3 linked regions of the Homo sapiens genome follow. The protein of the gene in region 3 binds, or shares a complex with, the protein of the main gene of each other region. Each region holds a gene or a part of one and is shown on either strand. Other genes may lie near its edges.

Region 1 (7,000 bases), on a different chromosome or scaffold from region 3:
AATTTCACCCTACTGGAAAAAAAACTTAAATCTATTAAAATTTCTAATTGGCGAAAAGTGACAATATAAATAAAAGTGAAAGAAAACAAGTTACAAACTGGAAAAAACCAGTTGCAACACATGGCAAGTAATGGGTTAATCCTTTAATATAAAAGACTGTCCATAAATCATTAATTTAAAAAAAACCACACACTATGAATATCCAAAGAAAGAAGTGGGTGATGTCCCAAGAGAGAAATACAAATGGCCACGAAATACACTGGAAGCAAATTGAGATTACGTTGTTTTTTGCCTCATATTGACAAAAGATGAAATAAGGAGAATGAACATTTTGTGTTGGTACAAGAAAAAAGGAACTCTCATACAGCACTGATGAGTGCAAACGCAGCCTTTCTGGAGTAACAGGGCAGCATGCAGTGATGTGCTGGCGGATGTTTAACCATTCGCTCCCCAAAACCGAGGTACCCATGTACACAAGTACATACGAATATTACTGATACAGCAGTATGTAGCACACAATTTACAAATAACAGTAAAATGCACAATACTCTTTATAGTAAATTGCATAAGTCAATGGATTCTCACAGAATGCCTATGTTGATTTTTGCTGAATTCTTGTATCCATAGCTAATTGAAAAATGAGTATGGTTGGGCCGGGCGTAGTAGCTCACACCTGTAATCCCAGCACTTTGGGAGGCCAAGGCGGGCAGACTGCCTGAGCTCAGGAGTTTGCAACCAGCCTGGGCAACATGGTGAAACCCCATCTCTACTAAAATACACACACAAAAAATTAGCTGGGCATGGTGACGTGTGCCTGTAGTCCCAGCTACTCGGGAGGCTGAGGCAGAATTGCTTGAACCCGGGAGGTGGAGATTGCGGTAAGCCGAGATTGCACCACTGCACTCCAGCCTGGGCGACAGAGCAAGACGCCATCTCAAAAAAAGAAAAAAGAGTATGGTTTCAGCTGAAAAATGAGTGTAGTTCTAACATGAATATTGTCTGATATTTTTATTTTTTGTTAACAAGAGAAAAGATGCTTATACTTGGTGTAAGCAACTGTGTAAGTAACAATTATAACACTGCGTTATCAGATTTATAACATGCGCAGGTGTAATATGTATGACAATAAGAACATGGGGAAGGGGTGGAAGTGGATCTATATTGGAGCAAAGCCTCTATATTTTACTGGAATTAAATGAGTATTAATCTAAAGTACACAATGATAAGATACATACAGTAATCCCTACAGCAACTGTTGTGGGTCGAATTATGTCCCCCCAAAAGATATGTTCAAGTCCTAACTTCTGGTACATGTGTACATGATCTTTTTTGGAAATAGAATCACAAGTAAGAAGAGATTGACCAGGTGTGGTGGCTCATGCCTGTAATCCCAACACTTTGGGAGGCTGAGGTGGGCGGATCACGAGGTCAAGAGATCGAGACCAGCCTGGCCAACACGGCGAAACCCCGTCTCTACTGAAAATACAAAAATTAGCTGGGTGTGGTGGTGCATGCCTGAAATACCAGCTACTCGGGAGGCTGAGGCAGGAGAATTGCTTGAACTCGGGAGAGAGAGGTTGCAGTAAGCCAAAATCATGTCAATGCACTCCAGCCTGGGCGACAAAACTAGACTCTGTCTCAAAAAAAAAAAGAAAAGAAAAAGAAAATAACTGAAGGCTGGGTGCAGTGGCTCATGCCTGTAATCCTAGCACTTTGGGAGGCCGAGGCGGGAGGATCACTTGAGGTCAGGAATTAGAGATCAGCCTGACCAATATGGTGAAACCCTGTCACTACCAAAAATACAAAAATTAGCCAGGTATGGTGGCACGCGCCTGTGATCCCAGCTACTCGGGAGGCTGAGGCAGGAGAATTGCTTGAACCAGGGAGATGGAGGTTGCAGGGAGCCGAGATCGTGCCATTGCACTCTAGCCTGGGCGACAAGAGCAAAACTCCATCTCAAAAAACAAACAAACAAACAAAAAAACTAAAAATATACAGAAGAATTAATCAAATCAACAGAAGAATTAATATAGTACGTAAAAAATATTTATTTAACACAAAAGACAGTAAAGGAGGACAAAGAACCAAAAAATTCATGATACATACAGAAAACAAATAACAAAATAGCAGATATGAACGCAACCACACTAATAATTATATTAAATGTGAGTACACTAACTGCTGCTATCAAAATATGGGGAAATGGGCATGGTGGCTCACACTTGTAATCCTAGCACTGCTATCCAGCCTGGGTGACAGAGTGAGACTCTGTCTCAAAAAAAAAACACACAAAAAAAAAAACGGGGGCAGACACGTGGCTCATGCCTGTAACCCCAGCACTTTGGGAGGTCGAGGCAGGCAGATCACTTGAGGTCAGGAGTTCAAGATCAGCCTGGCCAACATGGCGAAGCCCCGTCTCTACTAACAATACAAAAATTAGCCAGGCGTGGTGGTACACGCCTGTGGTCCCAGCTACTTGGGAGACTGAGGCAGAAGAATCGCTTGAACCGGGAGGCAGAGGTTGCAGTGAGCAGAGATCACACCACTGCACTCCGACCTGGGTGACAGAGCGAAACTCCATTTCAAAAAAAAAAAAGAAATACACAATTCAACAACAATACTTCATTTCAATATTCCATTCTCGATAATTTTTTTATTTTTTTATTTTATATTTTTTGAGACGGGGTCTTGCTCTGTCTCCCAGGCTGGAGTGCAGTGGCATAGTTATGGCTCACTGCAGACTCAACCGCCTGGGCACCAGTGATCCTCCCACCTCAGCGCCTCAAGTAGCTGGGACTATAGGTGCGCTATCACGCAACTTAAACTAATAGACATTTATAGAACACTTCACTAGAAACAAAAGAATGCACATTCTTTTCAAGTAGACATGCAACATTCTCCAGAACAGACCACACAATCGGCCAGAGGTCAGTAAACTTGTTTTGTGAAGGGCCAGATAGTAAATATTTTAGGCTTTTTGAGCCATGCAATCTTTATTGCTACCCACCTCTGCTTTTGTAATGCAAAAGCTGCCACAGAAAATACATAAATTTATGAGTGAGGCTTATTTATAGACCCAGAAATTTGAATTTCATATAATTTTCAAGTCACAAAAATGTTATTCTTCTGATTTTATTTTAAACCATTTAAAAGTGGAAAACAGCTAACCTGTCATTAAAAAGAACAGACAAGGCCAGGCACAGTGGCTCATGCCTGTAATCCCAGTACTTTGGGAGGCCGAGGTAGGCAGATCACCTGAGTTTAGGAGTTCGAGATCAGCCTGGCCAACATGGTGAAACTCCAACTCTACTAAAAATACAAAAAATTAGCTGGGCGTGGTGACGGATGCCTGTAATCCCAGCTACTCGGAAGGCTGAGGAAGGAGAATCACTTGAACCCAGGAGGCAAAGGTTGCAGTGAGCCGAGATCGCGCCATTGCACTCTAGCCTGGGCAACAAGAGCAAAACTCCGTCTCAAAAAAAAAAAAAAAAGGCCACAAAAACCTCCCCACTATAACCTGTTTGATTCCATTTACATGAAAAAAATCTAGAAAATCCAAACTAATCTACAGTGACACAAAGAGATCAAGAGTTGCCTGGGAGTACAGACAGGCAAAGAAGGTGTGGTCGAGAGTGGGACCAGATTACAAACGAACAAACATGAAGAATCAGCCAGGTGCGGTGGCTCACTCCCATAATCCCAACACTTTAGGAAGCCAAAGCGGGCAGATCACATGAGGCCAGGAGTTCGAGACCAGCCTGGCCAACATGGCAAAACCCCATCTCTACTAAAAATACAAACAATTAGCTGAGCATGGTGGTACGCACCTGTAGTCCCAAGTACTCGGGAGGCTGAGGCATGAGATGGTGGTGCTGATGGACACACAAATCAATGAATGTGGTAAAACTGCACAGAACCACACACATACACGCACGCACGCATACACACAAGTGAGCACATGTAAAACCTGCAATCTGCTTAGGTCTGTAGATTGCACTGATAGTTTCAAAATTGTACTATCATTATGTAAAATGTCACCACTGAAAGAACTTGAGTGATGGGTACACAGGACCTCTCTGTATCTTTTCTGGTTTCCTATGTCTATATTATTTAAAAATAAAATATTTCAAAATAGAAAGTATTTTTTAAGACCACATATTGTATGAAATCAATACATGAAATGTCCAGAAAAGGGAATTTAGAGATAGAGGGCAGATCAGTGGTTGCTTGCAGCTTGGAGATAGAAGCAGGGATTGACTGCAAGCAGGCATGAGGGAACGCTACGCAGTCAAAGAAATATTCTAAAGCAGAAATGTGGGGCTGGTTACACAACTTCGCAAATTTACTTAAAAAAAATCACTGAATTGTACAGTGGCTGAATATTACAGTATGTAAATTATACTTTAATAAAGCCATTTTTTAAAAAAGCAATATAAACACTCAGTTAAACCAGAATTCTCCAAAGGCCTCCTCAAGCAGTCTTACCTGAGATTCCTTTAATGCTTGCTTTCCCCACCAAATTGGGTTGGCATCAACTACAATAACCAGAAGATTCAATTCATCTTCTGAAAATATTAACAAGAAATAAAATTTAAAACATTAGCTCCATAAAAATGAATCAAAGCTAACATTCCCAATTCATAAATTAAATCCAGAGCACCACTATATGCCTTAAATGTTTATCACCTTATAATTATGAGATTAACAGAAGACCCAGTTAAAGCTTTAAAGCTGGGCAGGGCGTGGTGGCTCACGCCTGTAACCCCAGCACTTTGGGAGGCCGAGGCAGGCAGATCACGAGGTCAGGAGATCGAGACCATCCTGGCTAACACGGTGAAACCCCGTCTCTACTAAAAATACAAAAAATTAGATGGGCGTGGTGGTGGGCGCCTGTAGTCCCAGCTACTCGGGAGGCTGAGCCAGGAGAATGGCGTGAACCCAGGAGGCGGAGCTTGCAGTGAGCCGAGATCACGCCACTGCACTCCAGCCTGGGCCACAGAACAAGACTCTGTCTCAAAAAAAAAAAAAAAAAAAAAGCTTTAAAGCACAGTGGGCCCTTAGCAAGTTCTTGTCTACGTCCTGAACCACTATATCTCCAATGCACTAAATGTAAACTCTGTGAGGGTAGGAATTTTTGTCTCTTTTGTTCACTGCTTATCCTCACTCCTACCACACTGCCTAGCACATTGCAGCTGCTCAATAAATATCTACTGAACGAGGGCCAGGTGTGGTGGCACAGGCCTGTAGTCCTAGCACTTTGGGAGGCCAAGACAGGCAGATGGCTTGAGCTCAGAAGTTCCCAAGACCAGCCTGGGCAATATCGCAAAACCTTTTCTCTACTAAAAATATAAAAATTAGGGCCGGGCGCGGTGGCTCATGCCTGTGATCCCAGCATTTTGGAAGGCCAAGGAGGGGGGATCACTTGAGGTCATAAGTTCAAGACCAGCCCGGCCAACATGTTGAGCCACCCCATCTCTACTAAAAATACAAAAAAAAAAAAAAATTAGCTGGGTTTGGTGGCAAGCACCTGTAATCCCAGCTACTCGGGAGACTGAGGCAGGAGAATCACTTGAACCCGGGAGGCGGAGGCTGCAGTGAGCCAAGATTGCACCACTGCACTCCAGCCTGGGTAACAGAGCAAGACTTCATCTCGGGGAAAAAAAAATAGCCGGGCATGGTGGCACATGCCTGTAGTCCCAGCTACTCAGGAGGGTGAGGAGAGAGGATCGCTTGAGACCGGGAAGTCGAGGCTACAGTGAGCCATGTTCCTGCCAATGCACTCCAGCCTGGGAGACAGAATGAGACCCCGTCTGGAAACAAACAAACAAACAAACAAACAAACAAAACCACCTACTGCATTCTGAATGCCTGGTCAAGGACAGAAGGCACTGGTTAACTAGTAGTAGGAATCCCAGTGGTAGAATTTCAGGAGCAAAAAATTAAAGGGAGGCGTAGCTGTCAATTTGGCCCGTACTCATCAAATCATGTAGCAGCAAGGCCAATCGTAATTAAGAGTCACTTTTTAAAAGGTAAAAAAACCAGGCTGGGCGCCCATCCCAGCCCTTTGGGAGGCTGAGGTGGGCAGATCACTGAGGTCAGGAGTTCAAGACCAGCCTAGCCAATATGGCAAAACCCCGTCCCTACTAAAAATACAAAATATTAGCCGGGCATGGTGGTGCACACCTGTAATTCCAGCTACTCGGGAGGCTGAGGCAGGAGAATCACTTGAACCTGGCAGGCAGAGGTTGCAGTGAGCTGAGATCTTGCCACTGCACTCCAGCCTGGGTGACAGAGTGGGACTCTGTCTCAAAAAAAAAAAAAAAAGTTAAAAAACAGAGGGAAAAGCAATTCCTACGTCAAGATTTTACTGTTAAGAGGAATTCTATTCTCTAAACTAAACAGGCTACCACAACACATTAATCATTCATTTGGATTTTTGTTTTTTGGGTTTTTTTTAAGAGATGGGGGGGTCTCAATAAATTGCCCAGGCTGGTCTTGAAATCCTGGGCTTGTGATCCTCCTGCATCAGCCTCCCCAGTAGTAAGGACTACATGCACGCACCACCCCAAACACATTAATCCTTCAACAAACTTTCACACTACCAGTGTTAGGTGTTGGGGATACTGGGTCCAACCCCTCAAAGAGACTATACTCTAATTGAGGTGACAGACAGACATACAAACCTGTGAGTATACACTGTTATGAAAGGCCCAGGATGCTCATTTATTTATTTATGTATTTTTAAACAAATTTTTGAGACAAGGTCTCAAGGTTGGAGTACAGTGCCACGAATATAGCTCACTGCAGCCTTGACCTCCTGGGCTCAAGTGATCTTCCTGTCTCAGTCTCCCACACAGCTGGGACAACAGGCGTGCACTACCACATCCAGCTAATTATTATTTTTTTTTTTTGAGACGGAGTTTTGCTCTTGTTGCCCAGGGTGGAGTGTAATGGCGCGATCTCGGCTCACCGCAACCTCCGCCTCCCGGGATCAAGCGAT
Region 2 (7,000 bases), on a different chromosome or scaffold from region 3:
TCAAATGAAACACTTTTATGCTTCAAAGGACACCATCAAGATAGTGAAAAGAAGGCCAGGCACAGTGGCTCACATCTGTAATTCCAACACTTTGGGAGGCTGAGGTGGGCAGATCACTTGAGGTCAGGAGTTCGAGACCAGCCTGGCCAACATGGTGAAACCCCATTTCTACTAAAAACACAAAAATTAGCTGGGCGTGGTGGCAGGCACCTCTAATCCCACCTACTCGGGAGGCTGAGGCAGGAGAATCACTTGAACCTGGGAGCCAGAGGTTGCAGTGAGCTGAGATTGCGCCACTTGCACTCCTGCCTCGGTGACAGAGTGAGACTCCGTCTCAAAAAATAATAATAGTAAAATAAAATAAAAAGATAGTGAAAACACACAGAAAAGGTGAAAATATTTCCAAGTCATGAATCTGATATATCTGATAAGAGAATTCTGTCTAGAACAACTAAGTACTCTTACAAAACTCAATAATCTAAAAGCAGGTAATTAAAATATGAGCAAAAGATCTGAATGAAAATTTCTCCAAAAATGATATACAAATGGCCCATAAGCACATGAAAAGATGCTCAACATCATTAACACCCAGGAAAATGCAAATCAAAACTACAAGATGCCATTTCACACCCACCAGGATGACTATAATAGAAAAGACAGATAATGGCAAGTGTTGGTGAGGATGTGGAGAAATTTGTACCCTCATACACCGCTACTGGGGATGTAAAATAGTGCAATTGCTTTGGAAAACAGTCCAGTGGTTCTTAAAAAGGATAAACTTAGAGTTATATGACCCAGCAATTTCTCTCTTAGGTATATACCCAAGAGAAATAAAAACACATGTCCATACAAAAACTTGTACATAAATGTTCACAGCAATGTTATTCAAAATAGGCAAAAGTAGAAACAATCTAATTGTTCATCAACTGATGAATGGATACCTAAGATATAGTATATACAAACAATGGAATTCTATTCAGTAATAGAAATGAAGTACCATTACATGCTATAACATTAAAAACATTATGCTTTCTTTGTCAAAATTTTCTGTTAGGGAAAAAAAAAATTATGCTAAGTAAAAGAAGACCACATACTGTATGATTCCATTTGTATGAAATGTCCAGAACAGGCAAATCTCTAGAGGCAGAAAGCAGATTAGTGGTTGCCTAGGACTGGAGGGGTGGGGAGAAATGGGAGAGCACAGGGTTTCTTTTTAGGGTCATGAAAATATTCTAATATTGTACTGATGGTTACAACTCTATGAATATACTAAAAACCACTGAGTTGTATATTTTAAGTGGGTGAATTTGTATGGTATGTGAATTATATCTTAATTCTCAATAAAGCTATAAAGAAAAAAAACCATGAGAGATCACTACACCCAACAAATTGGCTGATATGAAAACTCTGACAATAACAAATGTTGAGGAGAATACAAACAAAAGAAAACTCTAATCAGATTGTCGGTAAAGTACAAATTGGTAACCTCTTTGGAAAGAGTTTAGTATATTATGTACCAAAGTTAAAGACGCACAAAACATATTCTATGACAATTCTACTCCTAGAAATGCATACTTATGTGCACCGGTATACAGAAATTAATAGGGGTTCATTTCAAAGCAGAATTATTTATAATAGCCCAAAATAGTAACCTAAATGGCCATCAGTAATAGAAGGAATAGTGTGACTATCATAAAATATTTTATAACCATAAAAAATGAATAAATTAGAGCTACATCCAATAACATGTATTATCTTAAAACTGATTTTGAACAAAATATGCAAGGCCTAAAAGAATATATACAGTACAACTCCAAATACAGCATTCAGATATAGGCAAAACTAAATCACATTGTTTACAAATGTATACATGAGTGGAAAGAGTATAAAGAAAAACCAGTGAGTGATTAACATAAGTCAGGACAGGGATTTTCTTGAGAGAGAATGGGAGGAAATGCAGTCAGGAAGGCACACAGGGAGAATTTTAGGTTAGGGTGACAGTATTTTGTGTTTCTTAATCTGGGTGGTGGTTATGTGAATGTCCATTTTAAATTTATTCATTATATCTCACATTTGTTTTATATGCTTTTTCTGTATCTATTTCTCAATCTTAAAGGTTTACAAAGAAAGTTACTCAAGTCTTTCAAAAATAGCTATTAGAAGCACAAGATACTGCAAACCAAACAGAGGCACTGGTATCTTTTTCCCAGTGGATCAGTTAAATACATATCAATATGAACTTAGAAATGAGGTGATAGGAAAGTAGGTAAGACATTATATGGAAAAAAATTTTTTTTAAAAAAAGGGCTGGGCATGGTGGTTCACGCCTGTAATCCTAGCAGTTTGGAAGGCTGAGGCAGGAGGATTGCTTGAGCCCAGGGGTTCAAGACCAGCCTAAGCAACACAGTAAGACCCCATCTTCACAAAAAAAAAAATTGATGGTGCACACCTGTAGTCCCAAGTCCTTGGGAGGCTGAGGTGGGAGGATCACTTGAGCCCAGGAGGTCGAGGCTGCAATGAGCCGTGATCACACCACTGCACTCCAGCCTGACAGCAAGAGACTCCAGACTGAGACAGCAAGACTCTGCCTCAAAGAGAAAGAGACAGATCCCTGAGTATAAATTGGGTTTGAATTTATTATAGAAGGAGGTTCCTAGTCACCAAGTGCATCAATCCCAACCAAGACAGAGCCACATAACAGCAAGAAAGTCCCAAGCTGACTCCAAGTACAAGTTCACATGGTAAGTGCCCATGAGTTTGGTTATAAAGAACTAGTCCTAACTTTTTTTCTCGTTAAATAGACACTTGAGGTGAATGATCATCTAAGAGCTCTACATATTATCCCATCATCATCTATTGTTGCTACAGAACTGTCAGCTACGGAAAGGTACTGAACCATCTATCCACAAGAGTAACATTACAAATGCGATGTTCCAACAGCTTTAATCATCAGATATTTGCTTGAGTTTTACCTAACCATGTATAAGAAGAAAAGTAAATACTGACTTTAAAACTAACCTAATCAATGAGTAAGTTTTGAAAAAGAACTATTACACCAGAAAATATGACAAGACTAACAAAAGAAATAGAGGAATATTACATCAAACATTGATTAGTCTAAACGGGAAGATATCTGGACTAATAAAATACACATGAAAAAACTTAGCACAATTAGAAAGCAAGAGATGAATAGCCAAATGATTCAGGCTGAACATGCAGCTGATATATTAAGTTTAAGGTGTAAGAATGAGGGTTTGGGACAGCGATCCAATGAGTCTTGAAGAATAGAGAGCATTCTAGAAGAGGAGACTCTACAAAGGCCTCACAAGATTATCATGATGAAGAGAGCATTTCAGAGTATCTTGAAAGAAGAGGGAAGGGAATCGAAATTAGTGAAACTACATGCCCAGAGACCAAGGAAATACCACTTATCACATAAGGATAATAAGGAAATACTGCTTACCACATAAGAAGTGATAAATAGTAGGACTAAGATATGGAGGAGGATGAAAACAGAAAGGGGTTAATCATAGAGATTAGGTTAATCTCGAGGATTATCCCCTACGGAGAAACTATACAAGGCAAGCGAATTGCAAAGAATCATACAGTTCCAGTGAATGCAAATCTGGGCATAAATGAAGATGATAACACCATTGAAGGTTAAGAGAAGGGGAATCAGTTTGAGAACTGAATGGTCAACTTCTGGTATAGTCAATAAATCAAGAAAATTGTCCATTATAACCTTTACACAAAAATGAAATGACCATCTTGACCTATTCTTTAAACATATTATTCTGAGAAATAACATTACAAAGTAAATTAAACTCCATTCTAGGCACACAGGAAGAAATGTTTATTATATGTAATAATGACTGCTGAAGAAAATCTGTAGCCTTTCTTAGAAATTGGCAAAGACTTTCTTCTTGACCAAACTCCAGCCAGGCTCCTCTGAGCTCTCTTCTGGACTAGGCCTCAAACTTGGCCAATAAATACTTGAACATAGTTTCTAGAACACTAACATAGTTTCTAACAGCTCAAGGCCACATCCCCAGGATGACCCCAGCCCCTCTTGAAATGTTTGCCTGGGAAAACTCCAGAAGAATTTACTGGTGGTTCTGCCTTCTGCTTTTTAAGCTCCCCACCCCCACCCTTTACAACCCCAAGTCACCTCCATAGAAATTGGAATGGAGTTTAGCTCTTCCTCCTGTCAGTAGTTACTGAATCAAACCTGTCTCCACTGCTGTGTCTGGCTGTGTTTATCCTGGACTAAATCACATTCAAAACAGCAATGAACCTAAAATGATCATGAACTTAATTATGAACCATCTAATTTATGATTGAAGCTTTTTATATATCAGAAATATTATAAAGGATCAAGAATTTTAAATCCATAAAAAGTCTGTTCTCCATAATATCTGGATGAAGTCAATAGGGAAATTACTAGATTACTCCTTAAGATCCCTCTGCCCCTCAGTCTCATCATAAGAAAAAGTTTACCTGTATTCACTTACCAAGCTTTGACAATTCCATCTTCTTTTCAGACCAGGTATAATACTGTAAAAGCCCTTTATAGGCCTGAATAAGGTTGATTAATATTTCCCGGGAAGACGTATTTTCACCATGTCTCCATGTCTCTGCCTCACTCAGATTTCTCTTAGCATCTTTAAGCATTCCATGATGCAGAAGGTATAATGCATGTTGTAAGGAGATCTGCAAAAATAATAAGGGTACACCGCCATTTAAGCCATTAGATAACCATTAGTCAAAAAGCTCAGTAAATATATAATACATGCTGGGCAAAGACCTTGGTAGGATACAAATAACTTGACATGGAAAATTTTGATGTTGGGTACAATCTGGCAAAGAAGTAAGACATAGGAAACAATTAACACTATGTAAATATGAGCTAAATTATGTAAACTTACAAACAAAAGACAGTGTGATATAGTGGGGAAAAAAGAGGTTTTGAAGATGAGTGTCTTGGTTCATACACCACTTAAAAACTAAATAAACCTGGGTAAATTATTCACTCTTTGTGAGTCTCATTTGTTTTACGGAACATTACTGCCCCTTCAGAAGGGTGTTTTCAAGATTAAATGAGATAATACTTGCAAATCACCTAATAGTTTGGCTCATAGCAGACATTCAACAAATATTACTATTTTATACATGTTATATAAGCTTAGAGAAAATATCTTAATAAGGGATGCTGAAGAATGGCTTCAGTTCAGATGGAGAGGAAAGTGTATCCCTGATACAGGAGAAGCAGGAAGAAAAATTATACAAAGAATGAGTATTACAAAAAGGGAAGACATTAAAGAGGAGAATAATGAGAACTACAATTAATCATATGGGTAGAGCCAAAGTACTGCAATAAGTTGTCAACTGGCCTCTCCATTCCTGCCTCCCTACAATCCATCTTTCAAGTGGCTACCAAAGAAATTTCATCTTGTTAGTCATTTGCATAAACTCCTTCAATGGCTCCCACTGACTACAGAATTAAAATCCAAGTTCCCTGGGTATGGCACACAGGGCCCAGCCTACTTCCCCCAACTTCTACCCAAGTGATTTTTAGAGTAACTAAATTATTGGATGTAGGGCTTTTAAACTCTTTATAACCCCCGCCATGCAGGGCTGCCCTTTCCCCTAATCTGCCTAGTGAATGGCCAATTGCTTTTGCAAACTTATCTCAAGTATCACTTTCATTCTTTTCCTGATTCCCCTACCCATTAAATCCCAACCCTCTCTAGTTCCAGAGAACTGGCCATTTTCTCCTTTATCTTCTCACCATTTGTTACATTTCTACTATGGTACCCATAACACTTCATTCCATTTACATGATCTTCCTCTACTATAAGAACCATGTCTAGCATATTGCCTGGTAAGCGGCAATAAGTGTTTTTAAAATTATTAACAACAAAAAAAATTGTATTATCTATCCTAATTATCACTCTCAGACTCTTATTGAGAAATGAGGTTCCCTTTCAGTTTCTTTACTTCAACTGAGTAGATTCTATGAGCCAAAAGGGACCTAACCAACAGTTTACTCTTCACACTCCCTCCCTAATTAAATGGCTATCCAGTTTAGACCTGAAAAAAGAGACGCAGAGCACACATCAGGGTAGGCCATTCCCATTTCCAATTGTTTAGTTAGAAAGCTTTTTCTTAAGTAGAACCGTAAACTGCCCCCATTTAATTTCCACTCACAGTATACCTGGTCTACCAGAGAACAAAATCGTAAGAGCATCTGGCACACAAATAGACACTCAAAACATTTTTTTAAAGCAAAGCATTTACAAACCTGTATTGAAAAAGTGCTCTTTGAGACAAAAACATAGAGAGGGAGATACAATATTTTGAAAATGTCTCAATCTTTTTGGATAAGACTTTTACAAAAGGATATATGAACTTGGAGGTGAAGATTCCACCTAAACATTAGAAGTATTAAAATATTTTCACGTATTTAAATTCCCAACTTGTTTAGCTCTTTCCTTTTCTAAACACCAACTCTAAGCTCAAGTGACTTCAGCAAACATTTTAGAATCTGGCCCATCATCATACCACTGCAATCTCTGAATAACTGGTTTTGGCAGCCAGAAGAAATATACAAAGAAAAGGAATTTTTAGTCAGAGAACACAGGAGGCGCCTGAAAATCAAGAAGTAAATGGTTCTCATAACGCTCTTTTCTTTCAGTTTCTCTTATTTATCCAGAATGTCTTATCCTTGTCCCACATTTTTTAGGTTAACTACCTTATCACTGACACAAGCAATTAGAAAAAAAAAAGAATACTGCAAGTGTAAATTCACAAAGCCCATATTCTCACCTTTAAATAATTCATGACGCCAATATTTTTCATCCGGTTAGCAAAAGTATTGAAACTCTCCATGTTGCTTTTGGGATGATAAAATAGAATTTCACTTCCGAGCTTCCAAATAATCTGTCAAAGCAGAAATTACTGCCAAAATGTAAAATTTTTGCCTTAACCAATTTCTGTCTAA
Region 3 (7,164 bases):
CTTCCTGTTACAACTTACCTGTTAATACAACTTTTCCAGAAACAAAAATAAGGAGAACAATTCTGGGTTTGATCATTCTGTAGATTAAACCAGGAAATAACTCTGGCTCATAACTAGAAGGAAAATTGCAAAAAGTTTAGAAATCAAGAGCTTTGTGTGCTTTTAGATAAAATGAGGACCTGTACAAGGAAAAATACTGAATAAACAAACTAGTCAAGAGGTAAAACACAGTTCTTCAAGCAGCATCAAAGGATAGAATAGAATAATTAAAGCAAGTGAGGCCGACTTGTAGTCGTCAGTTGATAACCACTGGATGGAAGGCTATTTGTCCTCCTATCACTTTACCCTATTTCTATTGAATCTGGATTTTCTGATTTAAGAAAAAGAGCCCTGTAGTTATGTCTGCAGTCTCTATATCATTAGATATAATGATATCTAATGCAGATAATAATCCTTTACTTTTACAGTCCTAATAATTACTATTACAGTCCTAATAATCATTTACTTCTAAGATCCAATACTGACAGTTTAACTTTTAATCATATCTTACCTCCTTAAATTGAAATATTCTCTAGCTGACAATTGTGGTCAGGAAATTTAATCAAACTTATATACTAGCCTGAGAATTAACCTATACCTGATTAAGCTGTCTGACTGAATGGACTATTGGTATATATTCTTTTTTTTTTTGAGACGGAGTCTTGCTGTGTCGCCCAGGCTGGAGTACAGTGGCACGATCTTGGCTCACTGCAACCTCCATCTCCTGGGTTCGAATGATTGTCCTGCCTCAGCCTCCCATGTAACTGGGATTACAGGCATGCACCACCATGTCCAGCTAATTTTTGTATTTTTAGTAAAGACGAGGTTTCACCATGTTGGCCAGGCTGGTCTTGAACTCCTGAACTCAACTGATCTGCCTGCCTCGGCCTCCCAAAATGCTGGGATTACAGGTGTGAGCCACCAGGCCAGGCCTGGTACATATTCTTCTAAGCCTAGTAATCTCATTTTTCTCAGTTCGGAGAGACTGAAAACAGGATGCCTCTGTTTCTGTGTGTCTGACCTAAGACAAAATTCAGGACAGGCTTCTCTGAGGAAGAGTGGAATGGGTAGACATATGGAACTCAAGTGGGAGCTTCCTAGGTGAAAAGGGAAATGAGCATACTAGGCATAAAAGTGGCAAGTGCAAAGGCCTAGGGCAGGAGGAACCAAGTGAGCCCCAGGGGCACACAGAACTAATGTGCCTGTGAACAGACACCAGAAGACCATGAGATGAAGCAGTGAGGTGGGCAGGGCTGCCTGCCTGTGAGTCTTCACCTGCAAGTAGCAGGGAAGATAATTAGAAAGTTGTTCCTATCGCTCAACTTCACACTTTGCTGGTAGATCTGACACAATGTTGACTAAAAGAGAAGATCCAAACTGGGAAAAAAAATTGATACAAGGTTAGGGTCAATTCATGCATTCCAAGTGTATTCAGCAATAAAACGATAAAACATACAGAAGTAGAATCAAATTCATTCCAGTAAAGGGGAGTTATGGGTACCGCAAAGTGATAAGGGAAGCAGAGGCTGGTGAGGGTGATAAATATGACTGAGAACATCAGGAAGACAATGCAAGAATACATACAACTATAACCATGTCAACTGTTCTCATATACTGAATATTTTGCATGTGTTTTATTCTGAACAATGTTTAGATTATAAATGAACTGTTGCCAATAACAATCATAATACATTTCAGACTTACCTACTAAATTGTTGGTGGGTGAGCACAAGGCCTTCTAACCTTATAGGAAACTTCACATCACAGCTCCCCACCATATTCTGAATCTTGAAGTCCAAGAACTTAGCTGGAAAACCCAACTTCTGTACAACTCTAGCATATTTTCTTGCTGCCAGTCTGGACTGTTCTTCACTAGGGAAAGGAAAAAAGTGAGTTATTCATACTCAGAGCCAGCTAAAATACTTATTTAGACTAATAACTTATAAAAAGTCCAAAACAGTAAACTAATAAAGTGTAAACTGGTCAGCCTTCTTGCAATAGGAGAAAAGACTGACAGGCATTCACAATTCCTTATAAAGTATTCCTGGATCCTTGACAGAAAACTGTAGGCCTGCCAAAATGACCTTTCAATCCGCCAAATTATTGTAGCCCTAGATTTTATGGATGTGAATTATCACCATCATCAGTCATCACTATTTCTGTATTTTAGCCCATGCATTTCTACTGAGAGGAAAACTAACAAACTTCATTTTGATCAGAAAATGTTGATGAGATTTATTATTGAACAATGTATTCACTAATTCTATCCTCTTTTATACCAAGACTCATCATGAATAGACATTCCTATGTCATTTGTTGAATAAACTACGACTTAGCAGTTCAGAGCTTACATAAGAAAAGCAGAATGTGGGCCAGGCATGGTGGCTCACGCCTCTAATCCCAAGCACTTTGGGAGGCCAAGGCGGATAGCTCACCTGAGGTCAAGAGTTCGAGACCAGCTTGGTCAACATGGTGAAACCCTATCTCTACTAAAAATACAAAAATTAGCTGGGCATGGTGCCAGGCACCTGCAATCCCAGCTACTTGGGAGGCTGAGGCAGGAGAATCACTTGAACCTGGGAGGTGGAGGTTGCAGTGAGCCAAGATTGTGCCACTGCACTCCAGCCTAGGTGACTCCACCAAAAAAAAAAAAAAAAAAAAAAAAAAAGAAAAGGAAAGAAAGAAAGAAGAGAAAAAAAGAAAAAATAAAAGAGAAAAAGGCAGGCAGGCAGGTCGGGCACGGTGGCTCACACCTGTAATCCCAACACTTTGGGAGGCTGAGGCAGGCGGATCATGAGGTCAGGAGATTGAGACCATCCTGGCTAACACAGTGAAACCCCATCTCTACTAAAAATACAAAAATTAGCCAGGCATGGTGGTGGGCACCTGTAGTCTCTGCTACTCGGGAGGCTGAGGCAAGAGAATGGCGTGAACCCAGGAGGCGGAGCTTGCAGTGAGCCGAGATCATGCCACTGCACTCCAGCCTGGGCGCAGAGCGAGACTCCATCTCAAAAACAACAACAACAACAAAAAAGAATGTGAAAATATTACCATAAAGAGACTATCAGGTGCAGGGGATCAGGAAGAACAAAAATCAAGCATATATATATATGCTACGCTTTTAAATTTCAGGTAAATGTATTGGTGGTTTCTTGTCTTGATGAAATAGTCATCCAACTACATATACAATATTCAGTTTTCAGATGCTCTGGGACAAAAAGGCTAAATGCTGCATGAAAAGCTTGCCTTGATAAACCAAAAGTTTCTGATGTTCCATGCAGGGGAAAACAAGCAAACAAAAACGCTCTTAATTAAAGAGGTTACTACTGCATGTTGTGGCCAAGGGGAAGTGAAAGGCAAGAACACATCCTTGTCCTGCATTCTGAAAAACCTCGGAGATCAGGAGCCAGAATGTCCACACCAATGGCATTCCCATCACTGAAAGACAATTTCAAACTTCAGAATAAGCAAAAATATCCACAGCCCCCTTCTATGTGTTGATACCTCCAAGTACATTTAATACTCTTTCATTTAAAAAGTTTTAGTTTATTTGTTCAGTTCATTTATGAAGCTAATGTCACTAATTTTCCCCCTAGTTTTTGACTTCTACCAAGTATATAAGCTCTGTTTAGAACAGTCAGGGCCGCAGAGTACTAACCTTCAGACAGGATCACTTCAGATGGAGAATATAGGCAATGACATTTTATAACAAGGGTGCATTCCTTAAGATCTGCACAACTCAAACACTATTAATGAAAGCTAGTTCCAGTGAGAAGGCAGGTTTCTGCAGCCAACACATGTGATGCTGTCACGCTGCCAGGCCCAATAAGGTCTGCAAAGCCCTTACACCATTAGCTTAGAAGTGTTTTAATTCTTGATCAATTTTTTCTTCCATTTCAAGATGTATTTGTGTTATTTACAACATTTTTCACATAAAGGGAATTTTATTAATAGTTCTGATGTTGTATTACATCTTACCTAATTTTTTTCTTTTTTCTGGAGAAAGTGTCTTGTTCTGTCTCCCATGCTGGAGTACAGTAGCATGATCTCAGCTCACTGCAACCTCCACCTCCCGGATTTAAGCGATTCTCGTGCTTCAGCCTCCCAAGTAGCTGGGACTACAGACATCCACTACCACGCCTGGCTAATTTTTGTATTTTTAGTAGAGATGGAGTTTCACCATGTTGGTCAGGCTGGTCTCGAACTCCTGGCCTCAAGTGATTTGCCCGCCTTGGTGAGACACCACGCCTGCCCATATCTAATTTTTAAGAAAATGAAATCACTGCTATCTAACATTAATAGAATCAAATAATAAATAAATAAATAAAAATAATTAATAGAATCATATTAAAATGGTTTTTATAAGAAAGCAATAATAACATGTTAAAGTGCTAACCTAATAACCTAAAAACAATGAGATATCACCTTTTCATTCATAACCCATAGACCAGAAGAATGAATTTCTTACGGCTACCTCTTGGCTCCTGTGCACACCATTTTCCCAGAACTGAAAATCAGTGCCGTGGTTCGTGGCTCTCTTATCCTCATGATTACCGCAGCAAACCGCTACAATGGTCAGAGAGAATCATTAGTGAGGTCATGCCAAACTGCTCAATGTTGTTAGGCGAACCACCCATTGACAAAAAAATCACAACTGGTAGGAAGGACATAGTACATCTAGTTATCAAAATATTTGTTCTGTATTTCTGTATATCTGTAAAGGATTTGCATACACCACATGTAACAAATATTCCTTTGCATAAGGAGCAGAAAATAATCAATTGTGACTAAGTTATACCAAATCTGTATGTTCTTTCACATGAGCATTCCATCAAGAGAAATGTTTGCAAAATTTGGTTATGTTCTCAATAAATACAAGTGCTTCTGTTTCTACTTTATATTTGCTGCTTATCATGACTATAGCTTCTCTGATACATTTTGTTTTATTAATATGAATTTTGAGGCAAATAAACCAATAAACCTTTTCTACCTTAATGGAATTAATAAATCAGATTACAAGCCTATCAATACGTAATGAAGTAAAATCATGCTTTCAATTGGTCTTTAGAAACAATATTAATGTATTAAACACATAAATGCAAATTAGGAAAAAAACACAGTTTTAACTTTTATTTTCTGCTTTTTATGCTTGAAACATGTTAATTCTTTCAGAAAATTTTCTTGCTAAGGTGGTAACTCAAGGGGAAAATATTTCAACTGTGGGTTGAATTAATGGCCTCAGTTATTAGGTACATGATAAAAAGCAAATAATTACTTTGAAACAACTTAAATATTTTAATACATTTAATTATACAATAAAAACCTACATGTTTCTAATTAAGACGACTCTTTGACAAACTAGATTGCTTTAACAATTTTATTTTTTTATTTTATTAATTTTTTTTTTTAGAGACAAGAGTCTCACTTTGTTGCCCAGACTGGAGTGCAGTGGTGCAATCATGGCTCACTGCAGCCTCGAATTCCTGAGCTCAAGAGATCCTTCTGTCTTGGCCTCCCAAGTAGCTGGGATTATAGGTGTGTGCCACCAACCCCAGATAATTTTTTAAATTTTCTGATGAAACAAGGCCTTGCTATGTTGCCCAGGCTCGTCTTGAACTGTTGGCCTCAAGTGATCCTCCCACCTTGGCCTCCCAAAGTGCTGGAATTACAGGTCTGAGTCACCATGCCTGGCTTTTAACAATTTTAGTTTAAAACCTGCTCTATGTCTTCCCTGTGATTTTATCAACATCTAAAAAAGCTAGCAGTATATAGTAGTTTATATACGTCCCAGGAAAAGCCTAGCTATTTTGAATTTCCAGAATTTCCTCTACTATTTTTATTGGTTAAATATCACTTAAGAACGTAAAGTAATAAAATTATGTATTCAACTAAATGTGATTATAATAGATGAAAGATTAATTCTTAGAATGCTACATGTCATACAGACTCATTATGAGTGGTTAAAAGGTGATTTTCAGACCCTTAGCTGTCTTTCAGATCTCAGGCATTATGTTTCAGGGATTTTAAAATGCACCCTAAGTCCATTACTTAACATTTCTCTCAACCCAGCTAATGTTTATCCAAATTACTTTGCCTACTATAGCTGGCTAACATCATCCCTATACATATACAAAATTCTTCACATGATCCCAATACAATACATATATAACTTAGCTTATTTTATAGACTGCTGTACTCCCAGGGATTCTTATATCACAGACACTCAATAAAAGATACAAAACAATGCACATTTTACTTTAGATCTTCATTTTATTGGTGTCAAGGAATAAGCATAACACAAACTCTTTGATATACAGATTTTTTTTTTGAGGCGGAGTCTCGCTCTGTTGCCAGGCTGGAATGCAATGGCGCAATCTCCGCTCACTGCAACCTCTGCCTCCCAGGATCAAGTGATTCTCCTGCCTCAGCCTCCCAAGTAGCCGGGATTACAGGCGCATGCCACCACTCCCGGCAAATTTTTGTATTTTTAGTAGAGACGGGGTTTCACTATGTTGGCCAGGATGGTCTTGAACTCCTGACCTCAGATGATCCGCCCACCTCGGCCTCCCAAAGTGCTGGGATTACACGTGTGAGCCACCAAGCCCGGCCAATTTTTTTTTTTTTTTTAAGAGACAGGGTCTTGCCATGTTGCCTGGGCTGGTGGTGAACTCCTAGGTTCAAGAAATTCTCCTTCCTCAGCCTCCCAAAGTGCTGGGATTACAGGCATTAGCCACTGTGCCTGGCCTGATCTACAGACATTTGTTTTATAGCGTGAAATACATTAAAATATAGAGACACGGCAGAGGAGACAAAAAAGAAAAAAAAAAGAAATACATTAAAATAGATCTAACCTTGGGATTATATTCGGCGTTTCGGGCACGAAGTGCAATGGTCTTTAGGTCAAGTTTACAACCAAGATTCACTGTGGATACAATATTTCTGTAAGAGATTTAAAAAGAAAACACGACTATTTAAATTACTTAAGTTTCATTGGATGAGGCGTTAGAAATTATGCAGACATCTGATTATTTCAACCAGGCTTTACTTTTTTTTAATTGCTCACATTTATTGTTTAACAAGTATCATGCACATGTTGAGCATTTTATATAGATTATTCCATTTAAT

The links. Proteins that work in one complex are often made in the same cells at the same time.
Region 1: TBP (region 3) and GTF2H3 share a complex: the UniProt entries of both Homo sapiens proteins name them as parts of the TFIID-containing RNA polymerase II pre-initiation complex.
Region 2: TBP (region 3) and TAF1A share a complex: the UniProt entries of both Homo sapiens proteins name them as parts of the transcription factor SL1/TIF-IB complex.

What each region holds. Positions count from the first base shown.
Region 1 is NC_000012.12:123,636,829-123,643,828, reverse strand, and holds part of GTF2H3 (general transcription factor IIH subunit 3), read right to left. Parts: intron 4,566-7,000; coding exon 4,486-4,565; intron 1-4,485. UniProt on the Homo sapiens protein: Component of the general transcription and DNA repair factor IIH (TFIIH) core complex, which is involved in general and transcription-coupled nucleotide excision repair (NER) of damaged DNA and, when complexed to CAK, in RNA transcription by RNA polymerase II.
Region 2 is NC_000001.11:222,572,934-222,579,933, forward strand, and holds part of TAF1A (TATA box-binding protein-associated factor RNA polymerase I subunit A), read right to left. Parts: intron 6,958-7,000; exon of another isoform or gene 6,940-6,957; coding exon 6,826-6,939; intron 4,711-6,825; coding exon 4,512-4,710; intron 1-4,511. UniProt on the Homo sapiens protein: Component of the transcription factor SL1/TIF-IB complex, which is involved in the assembly of the PIC (pre-initiation complex) during RNA polymerase I-dependent transcription.
Region 3 is NC_000006.12:170,564,359-170,571,522, reverse strand, and holds part of TBP (TATA-box-binding protein), read right to left. Parts: intron 6,979-7,164; coding exon 6,891-6,978; intron 4,606-6,890; coding exon 4,514-4,605; intron 1,912-4,513; coding exon 1,744-1,911; intron 114-1,743; coding exon 19-113; intron 1-18. UniProt on the Homo sapiens protein: The TFIID basal transcription factor complex plays a major role in the initiation of RNA polymerase II (Pol II)-dependent transcription.